2 linked regions of the Homo sapiens genome follow. The protein of the gene in region 2 interacts with the protein of the main gene of each other region in a pairwise test. Each region holds a gene or a part of one and is shown on either strand. Other genes may lie near its edges.

Region 1 (3,746 bases), on a different chromosome or scaffold from region 2:
CATCCAAATATCTAAATTCGTGCCTGCCATATAGTAGATATATTCAATATTTATTGAATGAAAAAGGTAAGACATTGAGTAAGGCAATAGAATTTAAAAATCCAAGTATATCTATCCACTATGAACTTCTCTATATATCTAAGTATATTCACTCTCATGTTTTGCAACCATGAGGCCTCACCAGAATCCTTTACTTTTTCATCCTGGAAGAGATACTGGAGATCCTCCAACTCACGCATTCTAAAGTAAACTAAGGACCAGAGATTAGAGAGCAGCGATCAAGGTCAAGTGCATTTATGCTACAGCTAGAACCCGACATCAGGCTTTCTGATTCTTAATTCATTGTTCCACACTACAACAGCTTTTCCTGCCCCACAAACATTAGTGCTAACTTCATAATGTCCGGTGAACTGTTCTTTTCAAGGAGTATATTTGAAGGGTTCGCCTTATAGAAACTGACTAGTTGGAATCTATTTTACAAAGCATTGAATGCAAGTGAAAACTGCTACACGTGAAGTAGTCATGATTTTTAACCCTCCGGCAACAAGTTCAGACTGGTCAGAAAGAGCAATGATATTTAGATGAGCATTACACAGATAATATATATTACTTGACAATTATGTTAGCAAACAATCACATCCTTTGACTAGGTCTGTATAGCTAGAAAAATACTCGACTTATAGTTAGCCAGCAAACTTTTAACACAAATACGTTTTTTGCTACGAATAAATAGCTACGTGGTTTTAAGTAGAACTTATAGTCTACTTAACTTTCAACAAACCAAGTATTGAGTGTCCACTGTGTCAGTGTACTAGACATGGGAAGCAAAAATGAAGTGTCCTTAAATCAAGTAAACAGACAAAAACAAACGAAAAATAATTCTTAGAGAAAAAAGCAATTTAAAAAAAAGTGCAAACACCTATTGAGAACTATTGATCACGTAGTGCTAGAATATGCAGAATAATTAGATCTTTGTGGAATTGTTGGGAAGAGGTTTCCTGAATGAGAGAGTATGGGATTTAAGAAAAGAATCAGATATGGCAGGCGGAGAATATGGCACTAGAAAAGCTAAAGGGTAGAAGCAAGTCAGTCATGGCATGAGTCCACACTCAGGTGTAACAGGACTGGATCATTGTTATTAAACTAAGGGTGGAGGCGGCAACTGAAGAAAAGCTGCAAACACAAGCCAAAGCCGTTCACAATTGACCTCTGAAGACCAACGACTGTGATAATGTGATCAAAACAAAGCATTTAAGTTTTGTTTAGGTTTCCTGCCGCATTCTAAAGGCAGACTTCACATTCTTACAATTTTCTTCATTCTTCAGTATCTGTCAGCGTGTTTAACTACTTTTAACATACAACTTTTAAAAAAGTCAAGACACACTACGAGGAACTTTTTCCGAAGGAAGTGATCCAAAGAACAGAGTGTGAGTCAATAAACGGAGAAAGGGAGTAGAGAAGCGGTTTACTATCCCCCGCTTCCGCCCCAGTGTGCTGTAAACTTTAAGTCGGGAAAACTATGTTTTAACCGATGAGATAATGCCTTTAAAAGTGCTTAGCACACTGTCTGGCCAGTAGGAAGCACTCAAGAAATTATGATTATTTTGACCTTAGACCTCTCTTAACTGTCTGAAACTGGGGTTTCTTATTTTCAGGGGAAGAAACAGGACACAGGCAGTCTAGAGGCTCCTGCCAGCCGAGACAATCTCCAATTAAAAGTCGGCATCGATTAAATATTTGCTGAACAAAGTAAACTGTCTCTCCACCGCCGGGCTGAGCGCCCACTCGAGATCCGGCCCGGAACAAGGGCGAGACTGGCCCGCGGGTCCCACACTCCCTGTAAGGGGTGGAGAACACGCCCACACGCCCAGACCAACAGGCGAGGCTGTTCGAGGACCTTGTTAGCCACCTCAGCCCCGCCCGCCGCGAGCCTTCTGCTGGCCTCCCGTTCTGCAGGGACCCTCCCTAGCCAGCCCGGCCGCGTCCCACATCCGCCGACACGCCCCTTCCGGCCTAATCCCCGCCCCTCAAGCACCGGCCCCGCCCCATAGGCCCCGTCCGTGGCCCCGCCCCGCCGCGAGCTGGCGCCGGGTCCTCTCAGCGCCCGCCGGCGGCCGCGTCCACCCCCGACGCTCTGAGGTCACCGACTGGGCCGGCCCGCGGGGGGCGGAGGGACGGAGGGAAGATGGCGGCAGGGGCCGGATATTGGCGCCGCCTCCCCCAATCCCGGAGCCGGCGCAGATGAGGCAGTTCGGCTGGGGCCAGCGGCGCTTTGGAACCCGAGGTGGGGGGACCCTGGCGGTGGGGCCTGGTCCTGCTATATGCCGGCGCCTCGGCTAGAGTGAGCGGCGGCGACGCCTCTTTCCTCCGTCTCTTTCCCTGTCGCTGCGAGAGCGAGCGGGCGGCGGAGGCGGCGGCGGCGGCGGGGCCGGGATGGAGGACGTTAACTCCAACGTGAACGCGGACCAGGAGGTGCGGAAGCTGCAGGAGCTGGTGAAGAAGCTGGAGAAGCAGAACGAACAGCTGAGGAGCCGCTCGGGGGCCGTGCAGGGCGCCGGCTCCCTTGGGCCCGGCAGCCCGGTTCGGGCCGGCGCGTCCATTCCCTCCTCCGGCGCGGCGTCTCCTCGGGGCTTCCCCTTGGGCCTCAGCGCCAAGTCGGGCGGCGGGCCCGGGTCGGGCCCGAGGCGGACGAGTAGCGAAGAGCTGCGGGACGCCACCTCCTTGCTAGCGGCGGGCGAGGGCGGCTTGCTGGACGAGGTGGAGCCGCTGCGGCCCGACGAGCTGGAGCGCCTGTCAGGCTGGGAGGAGGAGGAGGAGAGCTGGTGAGCGCGAGGCGCCGGGCAGGAGCTGGGCGGGGACGGGCCCGGGGGCGGAGAGCGTCCTCTGAGGGTCCCTCTGGTCGGGCGCCTCGCTTTGTGTAGCCGGGTCCGCTCTCCTGTGGCGACTTGTGGTTTTCTTGCTTTGGCAGAGGGAACGTCAGCTGGAGTTGGGGGTTCGAGGCGTGCGCAAGTAACAGGGTTGTAGCTCGTTGTCCTTTGGATTGTGGACCTTCTGAGTGCTGGACCCTATTGGGGTCTGTGGGTTGGGGCAGCTTGAGAAGGGCTGTTCGCCTGGGGAGGAGTCGGAGGTGGGAAACTGCTTTGTAGGCAGGGATCCTGCTTTGTGTAAGATACTGGCTTTCGGATGGTGGCCCTGGGCATTCTGGATGTAGGAGAGGGGTCTGCTTGATGAGGTATCACCAGGTGTGGGGGTCAGGGGCAGACCAGAGTCGTCTACGTCTATGCAGCGGTTGGTGTTTGGGACCCATTTCTGGCGGGGATGGGGAGACCGTATGAATCAGCACTCCCCTTTGGGTAGTGGGGTAAACCTTGCTTTGTGTGAAGAGAGGGCAGAGGATGGTGCTGCTTTTTTTTTTTTTTTTTTTTTTTTGTTACTCTGTGTGAAGAGTCAAGGGTGGAACGAGCCCTGGCTCTTATTTTCTAAAACAAGAATTGAGTCTGGCGTTTTGCAGAGCTCTGAATTGACAGTTATCACATCCATCTTTCATTTCCACGTCCTTCTAGGGGCAGAGAAAAAGAGTCCTATTTAAAAATTTAAACCAAAGCTATATTGTCATAAGCCACTTCTTGATGAAATTGTGGCCCCCCCACCTTAATATCACTTTCATAAATAGGACATGGGAGGCTTTTCCTCTCGTTTTATTATAAAGATGTGTGTGGGCAATTATTTGTCTTAATTCATTTTTC
Region 2 (3,746 bases):
TGCACTACAGCCCGGGTGACATGAGAGAGACTCTGTCAGAAAAAAAAAAAAAAAAAGCCGGGTGCAGTGGCTCACGCCTGTAATCCCAGCACTTTGGGAGGCCCAGGCGGGAGGATCACGAGGTCAGCAGATCAAGACCAGCCTGGCTAACACAGTGCAACTCCGTCTCTACTAAAACTACAAAAAATTAGCCAGGTGTGATGGCACGTGCCTGTAGTCCCAGCTACTCAGGAGGCTGAGGCAGGAGAATCGCTTGAACACGGGAGGCGGAGGTTGCAGTGAGCTGAGATTGCGCCACTGCACTCCAGCCTGGGCGACAGAGCGAGACTGTCTCAAAAAAAAAAAAAAAAAAAGCAGTATTGCAGTAAACATCCTTGTACATTTTTCTTTGCATACTTGCACAGATCTGTACGATAAATTCCTCATAGTGGATTACTGGGCCAGAACTAGATTATGTACATTTTAGTAACTGTCAAATTGTCCTCCTAAAGGTTTGTACCAATTATACTCTTACCAATATTGACTTTGAGTGTCCATTTTTCCAAATCTCTTTATATTTTTAAAAACAGAGATGGGGTCTTGATAGCAAGACCCAGGTTGGTCTTGAACTCCTGGCCTCAAGCAATCCTCCTGCCTCGGCCTCCCAAAGCGCTAGGATTACAGGCATAAGCCATTGCACCCAGCCTGTTTTTCCAAATCTTGACCAACCAAAGGCTGTTGAACTTTTTCATCTCTGCCAACTTGACAATGAAAAAACATGTAATTGTTTCATTTACTTTTATCCATCCTCTCTCCATCTTTTAGCCTGTTGGGAATCTACACATTCTTTAAATCCTAGGTTAAAAATTCATCTTCCTCACAGATCCTCCCCCATCAAATTTCTCCTGTCTCTAAGCATTTATAGCTTTTCATTTATACAGTTATTACACTGCTTTGAATTTTAGTGACTAGTCTGTATGTTATATTCCTCCAACCACTGTAGATTACAAATTCCTTGGAAGTAAGGACCTGAACTCATTCACAGAAACACTGAATGTAGAGCTAAGCTAAAATTCTGGAGATCATGTTAACCAAGCCTCTCGTTTTTATAAGGGAATATTAAGCATTTGCAGGATGCGTTACAGTTCACAAAGGCTTTTCTCAGACATTCTATTAGTTATATTAACTCCTCCATTAAATTGTAAGGGAAACATCGTTATCCCATTTTACAGATAAGGAAACAACTCCAGAAGATTTACTGAGAAAAGTGATTTACTCAGAACAGTTCCAAGGTCAGAATCCAGCATCCTGGCTTCATTCGCTGTTACTTCCACGACATCTCAGCTGCCTCTGGTTTCCCTCACAGCACTTAGCTTCACAATCTCTAGGGAATGAAATGACCAAAAAAAATTGTCGGGTGTTGACAGCAGCCTGAACATCTGTAATTAAATAAAGCAAACATGCTGACGACCAAGGATGCCCGGGTCTACACACATTCTTTCGCCTTTCTTTCTGGAGTCGGCAGACTTGCCCCCGGCAGCGACCAGCGTCCCCACCCGTGCAGGCGGCGTCTGGTCCAGAGGGAAACACGGCTGCGCGCGGCCCCTTTAAGGCTGCGGGCGGCGCGTGCCCACAGGCCTTTCAAATGGACCAATAAAAGTCCGATGGGCGGTCCGTCGAGGACCAATAAAGAACGAGGACACTGCGGGGTGTGCGGCGGCCCAAGCGGTTTCAAACGGCTTAGAGCAGGCCGCTTGGTTCTGACCCAGCTGAGGTGAGTGGTCGGTGGGCCTGCCCCACCCGCGAGGCCCTCGAGTGCAGGCATCGCGCGCGCAGAGGAGCCCCTGAATCCTGGGCGGCTGGAGGTCTCCAGACGCGCGCCCCACTTGCCCCACGAACCCGGCAGGTCTGAGGCGGCGAAGCGAGCCGGAGGCCGGGGGACCTGCGGCGGGCAGGGCCGGGGGCGTGGGCGCTCGTGTGCGGCGGAGGCCGGGGTTGGGCTCCAGGTGGCCAGAGCGCGCCGCAGCGTGGCGCGGGTGGCAGCGTCCGCGGGGCGCGGGCGGTGCAGGGCCGCGCCTGGCGGCAGCGATTTACCAAGACTAGGGCGGGGGCCCCGAGAGCCGGCCCTGCTAGAGTGCCTCTCGCGTAATTGTCAAGTGAATGAATAAGTAAGCGCCTACGAGGGCTGTGGTGGTTGCGAAGGGCCTTGTCGCCCTGGAGCAAGGACAGCGGCACCGGGGCCTGGCCGCACACCTGTGTCCCTGCTGGCTTGCTGCGATGTGAACGATTCCGATCATCCACCACCCCGCCCTTAACGACTGGCTTTCTCTCTCTCAACGTGTCGGGAGCGTTCTGGTGTCCTTCCAGCCCTGGAGGTGTTGGGGAACCAATACAATAGCCAGCAGTGTGGGTTGGGCCTTGCTACTTTAAGGTCGGGCTCGGTGAACTAGATTCTTACTTTTGAGCTCTCCCCTCTACTTGTAATCGTGGTAATTGTTGAGCAGGATTGAAATGCATTCCGTTGTGTTTCTTGGATAGAAAATGATGAAAGGGTTGTTGCCAGAGTGGCTAGTGTGTGTTAGAAAATATATTCGTGTTGATGAATCTTAACAATGAGTTTTTTATTCAGCATCAATAGAGGTTGAAGTGGTTTTTGCAGAACTTGCCCCAAATTTATGCGTGGCTCTAATTTAATTCTCATGGGACCAAGGCATCAAATCTTGGCCCAGAAATGCTGCCTGTCTTATGCATAATTATAGTAATTGAAAACTCATTTTTAGAAAGGTGAGCTCCTCCTTCCTCCATTTTCATCACCCTGAAAAGTCCTTCTTTTGACCTAAAGAGCCAATAAATTAAGCTAAGAATCTTTTGAAACTTTAAGAAATTGTAGAAGACTTTGACTTCTCTGAAGTGACTGGACAAACTGTAATGCTTTTACCAAATTTAATGATATAGATAAAGGTGAAATCAATTTATTTTGCAACCATAAGTTAAATCTAGTTGGTAAACTCATGTAAAAAAATTTTTAAATAAGATTTTAGGCTGGGCGCGGTGGCTGACGCCTGTAATCCCAACACTTTGGGAGGCCGAGGCGGGCGGATCACGAGGTCAGGAGTTTGAGACCAGTCGGGCCAACATGGTGAAACCCCGTCTCTCTCTCTCTCTCTCTACTAAAAATACAAAAAATGGCTGGGCGTGATGGCGGGCGCCTGTAATCCTAGCTACTCGGGAGGCCGAGGCAAGAGAATCATTTGAACCCGGGAGACAGAGGTTGCAGTGAGCCAAGATCCCGCCATTGCACTCTAGCCTGGGTGACAGAGCGACCCTCTGTCTCAAAAAAAAGAAAAAAAATTTTTTAAAAGGCTGTTCACTGAGGCAATGGCAAGCAAAGGTATTCCGTAACAATTAACATGCCTTTTACTTTATTCTCCATTACTTTAAAGTCTTGATCAGTTTTGAATTATGTTTGAATTATGAACAGTGGGTGTGGTAATTCCATCGCAGTCTTCTACTACTGACAGTTCAGTTTTAGCAGCACCTGTTTTTTTGGTGTTTTTTGTTTGTTTGTTTGTTTGTTTTTTACCTTCACGGTTTATTGTAAAGGATGCTACAAAGCATACAGATGAAGAGAGGCGTAGGGCTTGTAGGTATGGGAGAAGGGTGTGGAGCTCTTATGCTCTCATATGAAGTGTGTTTGAATATACCAACTCTCCTGTAAACTTTTATCTTAATTCCATCAACACTCACTTTCTTTTCCTTTTTTTTTT

What was found. Proteins that work in one complex are often made in the same cells at the same time.
Region 1: the proteins of CKAP5 (region 2) and SLAIN2 interact in binary tests that used the Homo sapiens proteins (3 or more experiments, as listed by UniProt).

Annotation. Positions count from the first base shown.
Region 1 is NC_000004.12:48,339,307-48,343,052, forward strand, and holds the start of SLAIN2 (SLAIN motif-containing protein 2), read left to right. Parts: upstream 1-2,222; 5' UTR 2,223-2,433; coding exon 2,434-2,822; intron 2,823-3,430; exon of another isoform or gene 3,431-3,746.
Region 2 is NC_000011.10:46,844,227-46,847,972, reverse strand, and holds the start of CKAP5 (cytoskeleton-associated protein 5), read left to right. Parts: upstream 1-1,692; 5' UTR 1,693-1,753; intron 1,754-3,746. UniProt on the Homo sapiens protein: Binds to the plus end of microtubules and regulates microtubule dynamics and microtubule organization. Acts as a processive microtubule polymerase. Promotes cytoplasmic microtubule nucleation and elongation. Plays a major role in organizing spindle poles.